2 separate regions of the Homo sapiens genome follow, and region 1 is linked to region 2. Evidence: fine-mapped expression QTL. A gene starts in region 2. The other region holds a variant in brackets. All regions are shown on one strand. Distances are between the middles of the regions.

Evidence for each region. PIP is the estimated chance that this variant, and not a neighbour inherited with it, causes the effect.
Region 1: its variant is fine-mapped to the expression of ETF1 in whole blood (INTERVAL, PIP 0.93).

Annotation. Positions count from the first base shown.
Region 1 is chr5:138,499,701-138,509,615 of GRCh38, reverse strand. It overlaps ETF1 (eukaryotic translation termination factor 1), which reads left to right. Exons shown (of 11, transcript NM_004730.4): 10 at 800-947; 11 at 1,229-3,521. The coding sequence ends at 1,311. Among named protein-coding and RNA genes, the nearest start is that of ETF1, 39 kb to the left of the region's middle. The variant G/A (reference allele first, on the strand shown) is at 5,012.
Region 2 is chr5:138,538,242-138,547,152 of GRCh38, reverse strand. It overlaps ETF1 (eukaryotic translation termination factor 1), which reads left to right and starts at 3,917. Exons shown (of 11, transcript NM_004730.4): 1 at 3,917-4,056; 2 at 4,217-4,320. The coding sequence starts at 4,235. RefSeq lists enhancers at 2,686-3,475, 3,357-3,756, 3,476-4,265, 3,207-4,406 and a silencer at 4,047-4,096.

The DNA.
Region 1 (9,915 bases), 38 kb after region 2:
GCAGCCTAATTTTTTTTATAGAAATGGGGTCTTGCTGTGTTCACCAGGCTGGTCTTGAACTCCTGGGCCCAAGTGATCCTCCTACATTGGTTTTCCAGAGTGGTGAGATTACAGACGTGACCCACCATGCCTGGCCTGGTTTTTGTTTGTTTGTTTGTTTTTGTCTTTGTTTTTAAGTAGTTAAGCAATCAGGAAAACATTTCATTATCCTTGAAATTTAATAGGGAGGAAAATGTAATTTACATAATGCCTCTCCTGCACTGTGAAACCTGTGCTGCTTTCTTCACTTGATCAGCTCTTCCACTGCAGTGGCTTCTCTGGTTTGCTCTAAGTGCATCACAACAGTTGAAAGTATGACCCTCCCGTATGAGATAGGTTTAAATGATAGCTTCCTCAAATTCTGGTTTGGAGAGCTTTGTTCTCTACGAGGCCACTCCCAAAAGCAGTCCTGGAATGTCTCTTCTGAGCCATTGAATGGGTGCTGCTTAGAGACACTACAACAGCCTGACTTCTAGAGTCAACAGTAGGAATCATAAGCTGAATACCCACTGAGTTTTTGTGTTGGTATTTCATAGCTGAGGGTAGAGCCTGAGGAGAAGTGTTGTTTGAAATAATCCGAATTTCTCTGCTGATATCCATTAGGTTATCAAAACCAGAGATGACTTACAGAGCTTTACACACAGACATGCCTATAAATGGGAGGATGAGAGTGATAGGTGGGCAAGGGGCTGTGAGAGGGACTAATTAGCCTTCATATATCCTAATCCCCCATTTTTGTATCTCATGGTCATCCCTGTAGACCGGACAGGAACATGAGCTTATCGAGAGCATGCCCCTGTTGGAATGGTTTGCTAACAACTATAAAAAATTTGGAGCTACGTTGGAAATTGTCACAGATAAATCACAAGAAGGGTCTCAGTTTGTGAAAGGATTTGGTGGAATTGGAGGTGAGTAGCAAATCAGCAAACCAAACTTAAAACCAGGGTCTCAGGTCAAGGTCCCTCCTGGCTAGCCCTAGCCCTGCTTCCGGTGAGGTGCTTATTATCTGCTGGGATAGGTGATTGACGCAGCAGGTGCAGGTTCCTAATTTGGACCCATGTTTATTATTACCTCTTTGCTTTCTGCAATTCTGCAAGAGAATAGGGCTTCCCTTATTCCCTTACCAGCCACCTACACACATGCCCATCCCATGAACACAGGTAATTTACCTTTTGGTTTGTTTCCCCAGGTATCTTGCGGTACCGAGTAGATTTCCAGGGAATGGAATACCAAGGAGGAGACGATGAATTTTTTGACCTTGATGACTACTAGGTAGTCGACATGGGTCCGGCAAAACGTGCCTCACCCTCCAGCATCCAACCCAAGGAGCATACCCATGGTGGAATCCAAACAGATCCCTGCCTTACAATTGGAACATTTCCAGAACTTAATCCATGAGCATTGGATATTGAAAAGAAAACCGAAACAAAACCAGACCCAGCCCTACACTTTGGTTTGTCATGGTGTCAGCGCAGCAGCCTACAACTAAGTTCCTAAACGCCACTTTGGACTAATTTAAAAAAGAATCCCAGTTTTTACTTTTACTGGATGGTGAAATTGGTTGCTCTTGTATTTTATGAAAAAAAATGATTTTTTTAACCTTCATACATAGAAGCAAAAATACTTTAACTGCTGTAAACCTTCAAAAGTTAATAGAAGTGAGATCATACTGGTTTGTTTCTTATTTTGATTGGAGAAAAATTAAATTGCTGCATTTCGCAGTGACCCATTTACATGGCATTCTCAGCTTAGACTGCGTAAGAAGAAATATATGTGGTGAAATGTTGGAACCATTTCTCTCTTGGTCTCTGTTTAATGTTGAAAGGGTGAGCTAATAGGAGGCACTTTCAACTTCACTCCCTCACGCTACCCCGTCCCCCTCCAGACTGGCAGTTTCAAGGATGCAAATTGCATTGCAAAATCAAACTGACTCATGAAGCATTTGGGCCAGTGCACTGTTTACTTCCATCTGTTTGCAGACACATTTGTGCCCGGCGTTTGGGAGCCCTTTGTATCAATGTTCTGACAAGGGTCCCTATAACCTTAACCTACTCGAAACCGGTTTGGGATGGATATGATGGGGCTTCTGTGCTATTGCTGGGATTGGGAGAAATAAAACATGCAATTTAAGTGGAAGCGAAGAAATTTAAAGAGGATTTTATTTTGCTTGGGTCAATCCTTGTTAAAAGGGAGGTGGATGTGTTTTCCTTGTGTTGGATGGCATGAGATTATGTGAATGTTTTGATTTATTAAAATGAACTGCAAGGTTTTTCACAGGAACGACAGACATGTATGACTGCATGTAATTATAAACTCCTGACCTCCTGGTGGGGTTGGAGCATCTGTTTCAAATGTGGGACTTACAAGCACTTCTCACATGAGAAATTAGGGGCGGGTGGGAAGGGATGGGACACAGCTTCTGGCACCATGGATTTAAGACCATGTTGGATCCAAAAGTTGGCCTGAAACCCTGAAGCTTATGCTTCACAGCTGGGCTGTAAGTCAGACTTGAACCCAGCTGATATGCAAGGTCATGGCGTGCCCAGGGTGGTGACAGTTGAACAAAGTGTATAGTACGTGCCCAGTGGTAGCGATGGAAAAAAGTATACCAAATGGACTTTGAAGGACCAAAGGTTTTAAAAGTCAATTGGTATCACCTCCACACTGACTAGGGTAGTGGGGTGCATTTGGTTTTCAAATTGGGTACTTTTAACACTTTAGTGCCTGACTGCTGTTCTTTACTGACTTGATTCAGTCACTCGTAGCTTTATTGGTCTGAACCAGCTCCTTGTTCCCAGGTTACAGACCTGCCTATCGTTCCAATAATCCTGTTTCACTTGAATGAAGGGAGTATGTCTTAAATGTAAAGTTTCTGGTTCTCACACTGTACTCTGAGGTCCAAATACTGTCTGTCAATGTGTAACCTGATGTCTCAACCCCCTGTGAGAAGAGTCCATTATTTGGTGTTCACCAACGTGGGAGACTTCACCGGAACAGGCTTTTTTGCTTTGGGCTCTGCTATTTGTTTGCAGAACACCCAAGAGCGAGCAAACATGCTCTCTTCACAGCAGTACCTTAGGGTTTTGCCATTGTAAATGGGTCTGATGTGATATGACAAGACCAGAGAAATTGGATGTAAATTTACATTTTTGAATATGCTTGTTGTTTCACATGATACATTTAGGGTATGCAGCTCCTTTTGTAGTTTTTATTTTTACTATTTAAGTTTGGAAATGATGCCAAATTTTTGTATTTCTTTAATCAATGTGTTCTCTTCGGTGATATATATTGCATTATATATTGATGTGTGTATCAATATATATTGATATGTATTACACTTACACATACAAACACATATAAGAGGGGGTGAAAACCGTAGCCTTTGCATTCTCTATAGCCTCTGCAGAGAGATACTAAGCAGCAAAATCTTGGTGTTGTGATGTACAGAAATGGAGAAGAGTATTAAACCATATTTAAGAATATACTTTGTGTGCTTGAGATTTTTTAGGACTGGTCTAGAAAGGCCTGAACTGTGGAGACAGTTCTCCAAGGCATACCTCAGATTAGTCACGGCCAATAGCATTTCAGCCTTGGGTTTGAGTTGTGTTTACTACATTTGTCTATGGAAAGGTATATGCAAAGTTTTTCTGAGGTCATGATCCCAGAGTTATGCTAGAAGAAGAAGGTTCAGGTTGCTGGGGCCAAACTAATTTGTATTCTCCCCCATTCTATATGCATGCCAAAGGGAATCTTGCTTTTTTTTTTTTTTAAGGTATGTTAAGTATATTATCCCATAACCCAGCATCCCATGGAGGTAGATGGTGTACCCAATTTTACAGGTGATGAAACAGAACAAAAGAAGGTTAAGTAGCAGCTCTTTAGTGATAACACCAAAATTTTATCCCAGGCCTTATTCCAAAGTTCTCTCTGTATCTGTCTTTGAGTCCTATAATAGAATGGTCCAGATGGAATAGCAGAAACTAGGCCTGGGCCCTCTCTCTCTCCCACGCTCCTTCATCTTACATACCTTACACTGGGTAGGAGAGTAGTAGCCCACCCAAAAGCAGGTCAGGGGCTGGTCCAGAGGAGCAGGGCTCCTAGGCCAGGTTCAGAGCAGAAGAGGATTTGTTTTCTTTGTTTTCCCCCAAGGTTGAGGTGCTTAAAGAGCCTCTTTGGTAGTTTAGGAAGCCTAGTTGAGGAGCCAAGGTGGTGCATGGTTTGCTTTCTCCAGGTTTGAGAAAACTGTTTTAAGTAAAATTGACCAGTAATGGCACTTGGCGTACTTTTCACCCATTTTCTTACCTGATCTAGGTGATAGCTCTGACGACGAAACTCAATTACCAGCTGGGAAGGGGCGAACATGCCTGTGCTGGTGGAAGTGTAATTTTCCCTCCTAATGCGTGTCTAGGTGCTGTTCTTGAAGACAAAATTGTTGGAAGGCAGCACAGTGGTGCAGGATATATGGGCTGTGGTCCTTGCCTGTCTGGGCCTGCAGCACTTGCCATCTTTTGTTCTCTGGCTCCAAGACGCATGCCATGACACTCCCAGACAGGCACGGTGGATTTAGGGCTGAGAGCCAAGGTGGAATTTAAGTTTCATGCCAGCTTCTCCTTTGTTGCCAGCTTGAGTGAATGCCAGGGGATTCCTGCCTGCCAAGTCCAGCCCTGATGGGACTGGGTCTCAGGGGACCTAGGAACTGAACAGCCAAGTGGTGTGGGAGCATCCGATTAGAGCTAGGGAAGCAGGGCACAGTTACTTGCTTGTTTTGTGGCAGTTTGGGTGCTGCAAGTTGCTGAGGATGTGGCTGAATAGCAGGCACTAGAAATAACAGGTGAAAACAATTCACCACCTAAAGGGTTCTCTGTAAATCAAGTCTAAAACCCTGTCTGGTGAATTCTGTTTCAGATACAGCCATCTCCAGGAGTCCTTCCCTGAAACTGGCAGGCTTACCTGGGGCTTAGCTAAGAGCCCA[G/A]AACCAAACAAGGGAGTCAAGAAAAGCTCTGGTTCTGCTGGGCACCATGGCTCACGCCTGTAAACCCAACACTTCAGGAGGCCAAGGCAGGTGGATCACCCGAGGTCAGGAGTTCAAGACCAGCCTGACCAACATGGTGAAACCCCGTCTCTACTGAAATTACAAAAACTAGCCGAACAGGTGGTGGGCGCCTGTAATCCCAGCTACTCAGGAGGCTGAGGCACAAGAATTGCTTGAACCTGGGAGGCAGAGGTTGCAGTGAGACGAGATGGCACCACTGCACTCCAGCCTGGGCGACAGAGAGACTGTCTCGAAAAAAAGAAAAAAAGGCTCTGGCTCTGCAGTTAACTGGGTTTGTGACTTCACAGTATCAGGCAGTCCCTGAATCTGAAGTGCCGTGCCAGCCAGCTTCCCAGGAAGCTATCAGGAGAGTGCAGTAGGAAGCAGGATCTCTGAGGTCTGAGGTAGAAATCCTGGCGCCACCTGAGAGGCTGGCAAATTATTCCATGTCTTTGAGTAGCAGTTTCACCACCTGTAATAAGGATTAAATGGAGTAAGGCACATGAAGGCACTTAGCAAGGACTGGGATGGCAGCTACTCATGGTTCTTCCTCTCCCAACCTTGGTCCTCTGGAAGTGGCCAGGGAAAGTTTGTGCTGGTGACCACAAGGTGGTGGTATAGAGTTAAGGATGCTGACTGGAAGAAATTTGCTTCATCTGAAGTAGGGGGGATTTCTGACAAGCATTAAGAGGTGCCTGGGACAACTTGCTTTGCCCTTAAATTTTAGGAAAGTGGAGAGGGCAGTTTAACAAAGGAGTAGGGATGAGTGAACGGAGAGGAGATCCCAGGAGTCTCAATCCAGCTCTGCCCAGTTTTCTTACTCCTTATTCTGGGCTTTGAGCTATCCGTCTGTGAAGTAACTATAGTCACTGACATTTGTTGAACAGTTATGTAATCCTTAGAAAAACGTAGTGAGGGAGATGCTGTTTATATCTTCCCATCCACGTTCTACTAAGTGGCAAAATCTGGGACTCAAAGTCAGGTCTGTTTGGTTCCAAAGCCAGTGCAAATGCAGGTCATCCCTACAGAGTGAAATAAAACAGCATGAAGAAGGGCTTCCTGGGGGGCCCTTGGCCCCAAGTAGGTGAGCAATCCTGGAAGTGATGAGAAGAAGGCAAAGCTGTACCTGGGAATGTCAAGCCCATTCTCAGAAAGGACTCTCAGAAAGAGTCTCATTCGACTCTAGTCCTTAGTCTACAGCCATACCTTTATATAGCTTTTCTCCACAATACCCAATACTTAGACTTCTTAAGGAATTATAATTTTAGCACCTAATTTTTTTTTTTTTTTTTGAGACAGGGTCTTACTCTGTCACCCAAGCTGGAATGCAGTGGTGCAGTCTTGGCTCACTACAGCCTCAACCTCCCAGGATCAAGCGATCCTCCCACCTCAGCCTCCCGAGTAGCTGGGACTGCAGGCACACACCACCACACCTGGCTAATTTTTGGTTTTTTGTTGTTTTTGTAGAGATGAGGTTTCGCCATGTTGCCCAGCCTGGGTGTTTTTTTTTTTTTGAGATGGAGTCTTGCTCTGTCACCCAGACTGGAGTGCAGGGGTGCGATCTCGGCTCACTGCAAGCTCTGCCTCCCAGGTTCATGCCATTCTCCTGCCTCAGCCTCCTGAGTAGCTGGGACCACAGACGCCAGCCACCACGCCCGGCTAATTTTTTGTTTTTGTTTTTTTAGTAGAGGCAGGGTTTCGCCGTGTTAGCCAGGATGGTGTTGATCTCCCGACCTTGTGATCCGCCCGCCTCAGCCTCCCAAAGTGCTGGGATTACAAGCGTGAGCCACTGTGCCCAGCCTCCCCAGGCTGGTCTTGAATTCCTGAGCTCAAGTGATTGGCCCGCCTCTGTCTCCCAAAGTGTTGGAATTCCAGGTGTGTGCCACTGTGCCGGGCCCCTTAATTTTAGCACTAGAAAGGGTCTTGCACCTTACCTATTCCAATCCCCTCACTAAAGACAGAAGAAAGCTGAGGCCAGAGAGGAATATAGTGACCTGTCAGGCTCATGCAGCAAATTAGCAGAGCCAACATGAACACTTGCTCCAACTCCAGATTCGGTGCTCTTAACAGCCGGATGATCTTGTTATTCTTCATCCAGGCCCTGTTCTCTCTAATGTTATAAATGAGAGAAGGGACAATTGGAGGGAGCACGTGGCCTGAAACCAAAGAGCTAGGAGAGGAAAGGTGGCCAACATCCAGATGGAGTTATGAAAGCTGTTTGAAGTCACTTCCCTGTGAGTCAAGGTTGGCTTGGGTGTGTGGATCAACTTGCTTCTTCAGCCCCCGGCCTTCCAAATTAGCCCCATCTAGCTCTCCCTGACTGCCACAGACTTCCAGCTCCTCCCACTCTGCTGAGATACTATACCTAGGCTTAGCCCCTTCTGCTTGCCTGTCCATCCCCACTCAAAGCTAGAGGGCAAACCCATTTCCAAGGAAGCCAGGAGAATAAGGAAGGAGGGTGGAAACTTGAGAGAAAGGCTCCGAGCAGGAATGGCAAGGATCTTCTGAGAGGCAAAGATGCAGAGATATTCCGATTCCTGGGAGAAGGCATGAGGAGAAATCAGGGCTTGATGATGCCAGGACCCTCTGCCCCATGTTGTATTACTGTCCAGACCCAAAGACATGCCCAGCCTAGGCTCTCTGGTGGGGAAAGGCAACATGAGCCAGCTGGGGTGGGCCTGGAGGGCCTGCAGAGGGGGACTCTTTGTAATAAGGCAGGATGTTGCCTGGGAGAGAGTTGCTCCTCCAGATAAAGACGAATTTCTGTGCTCAGGGCTAGAGGCCCTCCCTTGCACCCCTGTCGGGCTCTGATTCTGAAAGGTAACATGGAAGGAGTTCTACCCCAGTCTCCTCCAGCCTTCTCCACAGACGCACTCCACGGCCACCTCTATTCCTTAAATGAGACTTGGGTTAAGCCAGTCTCATTCCTTGACTCAGCAAGCATTTAGACATGTCCCGTGTACTAGGTCCCGTGCAAGATTCAGTGGCAAACAGTGCAGGTGCACACCCTGCCCTTCGGTGTTGAAGGTCCAGCAGTGGAGACTCTGAACAAGGAATGACAATGAGTGTTAAAGGACAAGGGGAGTGCAGGGTGGCTCCTTCCTCCTCTGGGGGTGCTAGGTCTATGTGGGGACCTGGGTTAGCTGGAGAGATGAGAGGGTGAGTTTGGAGAGGCACGTGGATCAGTCCTGACTGGATCCAAAGGCCAGGAAGACATTCAGATTTCAGGACACTGTTTTTTCTTTTCTTTTCTTTTCTTTTCTTTTTTCTTTTTCTTTCTTTCTTTTTTTTTTTTTTTTTTTTTTTTTTTTTTTTTTTTTTTGAGACAGAGTCTCTCTGTGTTGCCAGGCTGGAGTGCAGTGGCGTGCCCTCGGCTCACTGCAACCTCCACCTCCTGGGTTCAAGTGATTCTCCTGCCTCAGCCTCCCGAGTATCTGGGACTACAGGCGTGCGCCATCACACCTGGCTAATTTTTGTATTTTTAGTAGAGACAGGGTTTCACCATGTTGGCCAGAATGGTCTCGATCTCCTGACCTCGTGATCCGCCCGCCTTGGACTCCTAAAGTGCTGAGATTACAGGTGTGAGCCACCGTGCCCGGCTAGGACACTGGTTTTTTCATCCTGCTGTCATTTCTGTGGTTTGTTTATTAACAGCTTTATTGAGGTATAATTTACAAACTATAAAATTAACCCACTGTAGGTATAGTTTGGCTATTTATTTTTAAAAGTAAATGTGTGTAGGCCAGGCCTACACGCCTGGCCTCTAATATCTTGATCCCGGAAGGTGGAGGCTGCAGTGAGCCAAGATCCCACCACTGCACTCCAGCCTGGGTGACAGTGAGACTCTGTCTCAAAAAAAAAAAAAAAAAAGTAAATTTGTATAGTTATGTAAACATCCCACAACTCACAACTTAATGTTCAGCATCCCAAAAAGATTATTTGTGCTCTTTTGCAGTCAATCTCTGTTCCCACATCCAACCCTGGGCAACTACTGATCAATCTACTTGCTTTGTTTTTTTTTTATTTTTTATTTTTGGAGACAGAGCCTTGCTCTGTCGCCCAGGCTGGAGTGCAGTGGCGCGATCTCAGCTCACTGAAACCTCCGCCTCCCGGGTTCAAGCAATTCTTATGCCTCAGCCTCCTGAGTAACTAGGACTATAGGTGCCTGCCACCACGCCCAGCTAATTTTGCTATTTTTAGTAGAGACGAGGTTTCACCATGTTGGCCAGGCTGGTCTCAAACTCCTGGCCTCATGTTATCTGCCCACCTTGGCCTCCCAAAGTGCTGGGATTATAGGCATTAGCCACCACGCCCAGCTGCTACTGATCTGCTTTCTACCTCTACAGTTCTGGCCTTCCTAGAAATTTTTATATTAATGGAAAAGCACAACATGTAGTCTTTTATGTGAAGCTTCTTTCATTTAGATAAATTTTTGAGATACATCTATCCTATCTTTCTTTCTTTTTTTTTTTTTTGAGATGGAGTCTCACTCTGTCACCTAGGCTGGAGTGCAGTGGCTCAATAACAGCTCACTGCAGCCTTGATCTCCTGAGCTCAAGTGATTCTCTCGCCTCAGCCTCCCAAGTAGCTGGGATTACACCACCATGTCAGGCTATTTTTTGTATATATATATATTTTTTATAGAGATGGGGTCTCCTTATGTTGCTCAGGGTGGTCTTGAACTCCTAGCTCTAAGTGATCCTCCCGCCTCAGCCTCCCAGTGCTAGGATTACAGGTGTGAGTCACCATGCCCAGCCTGTTGCATGTTCATTTTTATTGTTGAGTAGTATGATACAATAAGAAATACATATACAGGTCTTTGCTCCACTCCTTTCCTGGCATGC
Region 2 (8,911 bases):
TGTGCCTGGCTGATTTTTTTTTCTTGTTTTTGTAGAGACCAGTTCTCTCTAAGCACAAAGACTTATTTGTGCTTTCAACATCAAAACTTATAACAGGCCTGTAATCCCAACACTTTGGGAGGCTGAGGCAGGTGGGTCACGTGAGGTCAGGAGTTCGAGATCAGCCTGGGCAACATGGTGAAACCCCTATCTCTACTAAACATACAAAAATTAGCCAGGCATCATGGCCTGCGCCTGTGGTCCCAGCTACTAGGGAGGCTGAGGCAGGTGGGTCACGTGGGGTCAGGAGTTCGAGATCAGCCTGGGCAACATGGTGAAACCCCCATCTCTACTAAAAATACAAAAATTAGCCAGGCATCATGGCCCACGCCTGTGGTCCCAGCTACTAGGGAGGCTGAGGTGGAAGGATCGCTTAAGTCCTGGGGTCAAGGTTGCAGTGAGTTATTATCGTACCACTGTACTCCAGCCTGGGCAACAGTGAGACCCTGCCTCAAAAAAAAAAAAGAAAATGAAACAAAAACTTACTTGCCTACTCCCACCTAATTAGGTAGGAACATCACCTATATCCCAATATTTAACTTTGTTACATAATGTTTGAGCTGAGGAGGAAGTTCTGAGATCATAAAGAACAATTCCTTTATTTTTCAGAGAATCTGTGTGCCTAGAGAGGTTATATATTTTGTTCTCACCATTTAGCAGTTTGAAAAATCTGTATCACTTTTATATCACAGAACATTCCTCAACAATGAATCGTCATGGTCCCATTTAAAAAGCCTTGATGCAGGCACTACCATCCGTGCTTCATACATCCCAAACCTCTTCACGTAGATAGTTATCCCAGCCTTTGCCTCTAATGCACTGATTTCTAATTCTAAATGCAGAGATGGTGAATTTGCAGCAACTAGGCAAGGAGCTTTTGGGGCTACCTGGGCCTGCAATTGTCTAAGAAATAAGTTTTAAGAATTCAGAGGCTGAAAACAGCAATCCTACTTGGGATGTCGTCATGCTTACTTCAGCCTGAATCACACAGAAGAAAGCCTTCAAGCATGGACCTGAAGCAATGCTGTAAACACAAACATCAAAAGGAAGAGGAGGCCAGGTGTGGTGGCTCACGCATGTAATCCCAGCACTTTGGGAAGCGGAGGCAGGTGGATCACCTGAGGTCAGGAATTCAAGATCAGCCTGGCCAACATGGTGAAACCCTGTCTCTGCTAAAAAAAAAATAAAAAATAAAAAATACAAAAACTGGCCCGGCATGGTGGTTCACGCCTGTAATCCCAGCACTTTGGGAGGCCGAGGCAGGCAGATCACGAGGTCAGGAGATCGAGACCATCCTGGCTAACACGGTGAAACCCCGACTCTAATAAAAATACAAAAAATTAGCTGGGCATGGTGGCACCCGCCTGTAGTCCCAGCTACTCAGGAGGCTGCCGCAGAAGAATCGCTTGAACCCGGGATGTGGAGGTTGCAGTGAGCCAAGATCGTGCCACTGCACTCCAACCTGGGCGACAAAGGGAGACTCCGTCTTTAAAAAAAAAAAAAAAAAGAACAGGAAGGGTAGAGTAGGGCAATCTAATATAGAAAGGAGGAACCAGGGCAAGAGGAATGAAGGAAAACCTTGGACACAGTTGATTCCTAGTCAGTAAGCAGTGTTTATGACTAAGAAGACCCCTCCGTTCACTACTAAACACAGTGAATGACACACACACAGCAGGAGTACAATATTATATAACAAATAAACATATGCCAAAAACTACAAAATGGAACCCAAAGAAGAGGTTCCAACCTGAGATTCATTTCCTGGGGGACAGAAGTATGACCGTGTCCCCACCCTATGAAAATACAGGTAATGGGGTCACTGTATAATACACTGGACTCCAAAAATGGAGTCGGGAAGCCATAAACTAGCTGTGGACTCTGAGCAGATCCCTTTCACTTTTCTTTGCCTCAGTTTCCCCATGTATGAAATGGAGGTCATACCCCCATCTTCAAAGTGTGGACACAGTTTATAACACATGCAAAAAGTATTCAAAAACCATACAAATGAAAGCGCATGACGGACATCCCTACTTACATGTCTCATAAGCAATCTCAAACTTAACAGGCCCAAGATGAAATTCTCAATCATCCCCCAACACCTACTCCTCACCTTTCCCACCTCAGTAAATGTCACCACTTCAGTACTCTGGGAACCATTCTTGGTTTTCCTCAACCAATCCATCATCCAGTCCTATTCACTTTTTTTTTTTCCTCGAGACAAGGTCTCGCTCTGTCACCCAGGCTGGAGTGTAGTGGTGTGATCTCAGCTCACTGCAGCCTCGAATTCCTCGGCTCAAGGGTTTCTCCCACCTCAGCCTCCCAAGCAGCTGGGACTACAGGCGCGGGCCACCACACCAGGCTAATATTTTGTAATTTTGTAGAGACGGAATCTTGCCATGTTGCCCAGGCTGCTCGCAAACTCCTGGGCTCAAGCGATCCTCCCCTTTGGCCTCCCAAAGTGCTGGGATTACAGCCGTGGGCCACTGCACCAGGCCCTTCATTCACTTCTATCTGCACTGTCACCACCCTAATGTAAGCGAAAATCATCTCTCACATGATAATGAAGCAGCCAAAATGGTCTCTGGGCTTCTCCTGTACTCTCTCCAGTCCACACCAGGGCTCTAAACCCTTTAAACTACCCACTGTTCTTGAAAGAAACCAAACTTCTGAATCTGGCTTAAAAGACCCTACATGACCTCTTCCCCTGCTGCTCCCTCAAACCACTCTCCCCGTCCCTGACCTTGTGCCAGCACACTGGCGTTTCTGTAGTTCTCAACTGTATTCTGTTTCCTCCTGACAAACTCTTAATCATCCTTTGGGTCTCATTTCAGAGCTGGGTCCCCGCCATACACTCTCAGAGCACCCTGAAGTACTTAAGCATTTGTGTAATTATTTTATTACAAAAAGTATAAAATCACAAACTTAAAAACCCAATCGACTATAAGCTCCATAAGGGTAAGTACTGTCATCTGTTTGGTTCACCTCTGTATCCCCAGGAAAACAGGGTCCAGCACACGGTCTGGGCTCAATATTTGAACCCAGACGAGGTGAGGGGGGACAAAGTAGCCACCTAAAAATCCTAACTCAAAAAGATAAAGTTCTAACCGTATGTGGATGCCCATTTTGTTTCAACTCTCTCCACCCCCATTCTCAACGGCTCAGGCCAAATCATACATGGGACCAGATACCTCAGGTCTCCAAGCTCAGGCAGCCCCCGCTGTCTTCCACCCCATAAAGTTCTAAGTCCAAAGTGAGCCCGTCCTAGCTCTGGGGCGAGAGAAAACAGGCCTCTTTCGCCCCTGCAGGTGAGGGTCCCGGACCGCCCGGAGGCAGGTTCCTCATCCAGACCTACTGGCCAGGACTCCTCCACACTATTCCGTGCAGCCATGACGCACGCAGACCGCAGCACTTCGTCAGCGAAGAAGCCGCTGAGCGCGAGGCGCTTCTTCGCGGCTTCTCAAGCACCGTTCAAACCGCGCGTCGGGCCCAAGTGCCTAGCTTCGAGTCGCAAAGCCTCAGATGTCCACCCTATTCAAGGAGAATGGACTGAAAAGACGACGACCCCGGTCCTCTCTCTTTAAGAACCACCCCCATTCGAGCCTGACGGGGGCTCTCAGTAAACTCGCGAGAGCCACCGGCTTCCGCCCGCTTCCTCCTCTCGCCTTGCCGGGCCGGAAGAAAGGTGGCACCTCCCACCCCCCAGCCTTACCTCACAAGGCGGCGCGGACCCAGCTGCAGCCAATCGGCGGGCTCATTGTAGGCTGCGGGGCAGAGAGCCAATGAGAAGTCGCGGCGGACGCCCAGCTTCTCCTCACTCGCACCGGCCCCCTCCCTTCCGCCTGCCGCCTTCCACTCCGCCCCTGGCGGAGGAAGTGATGTCACAGGCCCCATGTGAGCGGATTGCAACACATGCAGCTGCCTGGAGAGAGGGAGCCGGTGTCCTACGTCAGAGCCGCCGCCGCCGCGGAGCCGCCGCCGGGGAGGAGCAGCCGCTGCCGCCCAGGACTGGGCCCTTAGGTAAGGCACAGGGAGGGAAAGGCCGGTGACCTTTGTGGCGAGCTGCACCGGACGGGAGGAGAGGGCCTCTGGGGGATGGCGAGGAAGGGGGCCGCTCTGCCCCAGCGGCGGCGCTAACTCTGTGGTCTTGGTGTCTCCGGGCCCCGCCGGGCCGCTCTAGGGAGGAGGAGGCGAGAAGATGGCGGACGACCCCAGTGCTGCCGACAGGAACGTGGAGATCTGGAAGATCAAGAAGCTCATTAAGAGCTTGGAGGCGGCCCGCGGGTGAGCGCCGCGTCCGGCACCCTCCGTGCCCTCTTGGTTCCCGGACCCCTCAGGATGGACGCCCCCGCGCCGCATGGCCGGATGAGGAGAACCAGGCACTAGCCAACTCCCGCCTTCTGGATCTCTGGGTAGTAGCCCCTGACCCAGGGGCGAGGGTCGGCGCGGTTGGCCCGAGAAGGGGTCCTTTCCCCGCATGGGGGTAAGGGGCCCGCGCTCCCCGGTTTAGATCACTCGGCCCCCCTCGTGGTAGGCCACCGCTACTTTTGCACCTCTCCCGGGCCCTTAAGTCCAGGTCCTCCCTCTTCGGGCTCCAGGTGCTGCCACCCGACTCGGGTGCTATTGTGGCAAAGTGTTCGGCCTTCCTTTCCCAGGGCCCTTCCCTGATTTCCTCTTCTCCCTTCATTTCTCAGCCAGGCCTCATTAAAATGGCCTCTCCCTTCTGGGCTTCTGAGACCCGGGTGGGTGAAGTTTGGATGGGACGGGAAGCAGAGGTGGCCAGGGACAGCTTCTTTCTGATTCCTGATTTCTCTGGGTCTTCCACCTGTCCCAAGATGACTTCTCCCAAGTCCTCTAATTACCCCGGAGCTTCCTGGTTTTAGCTGTTCCAGGACCCACCTATAAACTGAAAATGCCAACGTACGCGCGATGTGAGGGGTGCTGGGTAGGTTTTGGTTAATGAATCTGCATGTGTATGTCCAGGAGAAATACGGGTTAGGGGGCCGTTTGATAGGAATCATAACTACAGAGTCCCTGCTGGCATTTCTCTGAAACTTGTGGGGATATCGCTGTAGAGAGGCGCCTGATGTGCTTGATGCTTGTTGAGTGAGATTCATAATTGAATTAAATGGGCTTTGAGTCTTGTACATTTTGATAAGAAACTGTAGGTGTGTCCATTGGGGGGAGAGTAGGCTAGATTAAAATTAGCTGTGTGTGTGTGTTTTCTTTTTTTTTTAACGTTGTTCGTTTGAGGAAGGTGTGCCAGGGGTATTCCTGTTTCTTTTATTACTTTATTTTGTTCCTTTCCCAGTCATAGAAACTTTTTACTTACAGGAAGTGCCCCCCCCCCCAAAAAAAAGTGTTTGGAACATTATTACATACTTGTATGTCTGAGCATTCTTAGAATAGTAGAATGGCCTGCCTCAGGCCATGTGAAAAGTTGATTTCAGCACAAGAATTTGACATTCTGGTTTCCAGCCCAGGATTGTCATTTATGGGTAGATTTGCAATTTTAGAATGACAGCCCCTCCAAGCTCTTCATTATTACTGTTATATGAAACAGGATGTGCTTAATTGTACTGAAGGCCCAATTCACAGGTTGGTTTTACTAGTGTTTTGTTCTTAATAAATTAGGGACAGTTCTGTTTGGAATGAGGCTTCTAAAAGTTTGGCCCCATTCAGTGACGGGCTTGTGCTCACTCCTTCGGTTTACTGGAGAAACGTTAGTTTAATATGAATCGAAGACAGCGGCTTGTTAGTCCTTAGGTTTTTCTTTGAATTCAATAGAATATCCAGACCTTCTTAATGATCTTACAGGAACTTGTGCCGTATGATAGAGTGACCAGTTATTCCCAAAATGTGAGAATACTGTACAGAAAGGGTAACATAGGTCACGACCCATTATGTTGCACTACCAAGAATTAGCCAGGTTCTTTTGTTTCAGTAGGATCTTGTTTTGTTACTTGAAGCCTTCAATCCAGTATTGCATTTTATAGATTGCTGTTGTTGCAGTATTGTATATAGGTGGATGTGACCTCTGGATTTGTTCTTACTGCTTTCAGTAGCAGGCAGGTTTACACATTTTAATTTGCATACGTTATATTCTCTGAAACAGTCCAAAAAATTAAATCATGACTATAATTTGCCTGTTTGAATGAAGTAACATTGAAGATGACATTGCTTAATAAGTAACAGCATTCCTTTCTACTGCTTAATGAAGGAAACTCATTCTTAAATTTGTTCTACCCATGTTACCTAGCCACTAGAAACTTTTAAGCGCCTCTTTAAGGCTTTTGAAGGCTTTACCTCTTTGTTTAGCAAAGTTCAGTAAAGTTTAAAGCATGCTAAAAATGAAGTTATAAGACACAACTTGTATTTCAAGTTGTTGAGTTTGGATATTTCAGACATGATTAAGCTGTCTAAAATAGCTGGAGGACCTTCCGCTACACATTGTGGTTAATAATCATGTCCTACTTTGCTTTTAATCAGGATTTGGTTGCATCTTGATCCCATGGAAATTTAAAATCTTGGCCATCTCTGAGTATTGGTAAGGGAGTCAGAAGATTCCCCAGTATATACCAGTTTTTGGAGGTGGGAATATTTTCATTGCCAACTTGTGTTAAAGTCAGACTCTAGATTTTCATAGATAGGGTACAGTGGAAAATGTTATTCCTACTTTACCTAGTGATAAAATATCTTTAGAAGAATTGTAATGGGCTTTAAAGACTTAAGTGGATGGCAAAATGAATCTGTATTTGCTGATGTTTTGGGGATACTCTGGTTTTCAGGAGGAAACTGAGGTTTTCAGGCATGGTTATTAGGACAAGGTAGTGAGACTTAGTGGTTGAGTAACAGTATTGTTTTGGAAATGAAAAAGCCCTTTCCTCCCCTTAGCAGTGTAGAATTCTAGGCATAGGAATCATGGATTTGTTTTTAACAGTAGTTATTAAAATATGCTAGAATAAGAGTGATTTTGAAATTAAGATAATCCTATGTGGTTATCTCTTGATATATGACCCAAATTTAATGTAGCTTGAAAAAGGAACCACCTGCAAAATGGGCTCACTAACTACATCTGAATAAAGGGAAGTATGTTGGCAAAATAATTTATTAAGCACATACTATATTATAGACTGTGCTACAGTACATTATTAAGTCATTTAATCCTCACAAGTATTGCCACCATTTGGTAGACAAGGCACCTGAGGCTAAGAGATAATTTGTCCAAGATGTCACAGCAAAAATGTAGCAGAGTTCAGAACTTAAACCAATGTGCTATAATGGGTATATTTTATTTTCAGAAAATACAAAACTAGATTTCCTTAAAATGTAGTCTGAGCTATAACAGATTCTATTTTATGTTACACGTGTGTAGAAGAGCATTTATAGAGGCCACATTACTAAAATGGGGAACTTCATAGCATTCTGTTTTGTAACCAGCATCATACTTAATCTTCTGAGTTGAAAGGAGTGTCACACATAAACTTGATTTTTGATTTGGGTAGAACATGCTTATTTGGTTTCAGATAAGCCTGGTCGAATGTTAGTTTGTGTGTGCTAGTAAAATAACCAGTTAATTATTTTGGTAGACATAGGCCCCACTTAAAGTTGATGGTAGTTCTTCCCTGTTCATGATTGCTCCTGGTATATGCTCCACAGTTGGCTTATGAAGGACAAATGTATACATAAACCAATACTGTGGTTGAGGGTATCTTGAATAAGGAACTAAAACAGGTCAACGTATGTTGGAAAAAGGGGGAGAATTATTGGTTGTTTTTTCCCTTGGTGTTTTCTGAGCAGGCAAGAGGTGGCCTCAGAAATAATGTTGGACACCTTATAGTTTTAAGGTAATGTTAATAAAATCATAACTAGAGCCTGTGCTAGCCAGGGACAGTGGTGAATGTGACAAAGGAATGGACAGTGTTAATTTGGGTTAGGTTGTGTCTGTGGGTGTTAAAATGTCTTCACTTATCTTCACTAGGAAACCTTATGTGTTTCTTATCCAATGAACACTTGGTCAGATAACCCTCATAACCATAACCCTTGTTTGAAGGTCAGTGAGCTTGCAAACTTCTGCTGTAGTGTTTGGACATTTTAAAAACTGTTTACTTAAAAATAACTTGTTGATATCTTAATTCTAAATGAAATAAAATTGGTTGTTCCTGCCCCCAAATATAACCATTTTTAAAGAATCCCCACTGAATTCCTCACATTATATAGATTTAACAGTGTTTTGGCGAGATCATTGAATAGGTTAATGTTTTAAATCTTAGAGATAATTAATATGAACAGATTGCTTAATTTATATACTTTGAATAAATTAAGGTATGTTGGATGTGTTTGAGTACCTTCCCCAAGTAAACATTGTTGGTTAATAGAATATTCACCTAAATGGTGGTGGAAATAATATTCTCAAAGCACTGAATTTCACATTCTTTTTTTTTTTCCCTCACTATCGTTGAAGGGCTGGTTGTAGCTAAAATGATACATTGTGGTCTTTGATACAAATACCTGAACCATTTAAAGTTCAGGCTCATAAAGAAGACTTTTTTTGTCCTCTATTCTGGCTCTTTCCATGCCTCCCTTCCCCCAAACTGTTGGTTAGACAAATTAATAGGCCACATGAGGACTGGGCACGTTGACTCACACCTGTAATCCCAGCACTTTGGGAGGCCAAGGTGGGTGGATCACTTGAGGTCAGGAGTTCAAGACCAGCCTAGCCAACATGGTGAAACCCTGTCTCTACTAAAAATACAAAAATGAGCTGGGTGTGGTGGCTTGCACCTGTAATCCCAGCTACTCGGGAGGCTGAGGCAGGAGAAATGCTTGAACCTTGGAGGCGTAGGTTGCAGTGAGCCGGGATTCCGCCACTGCA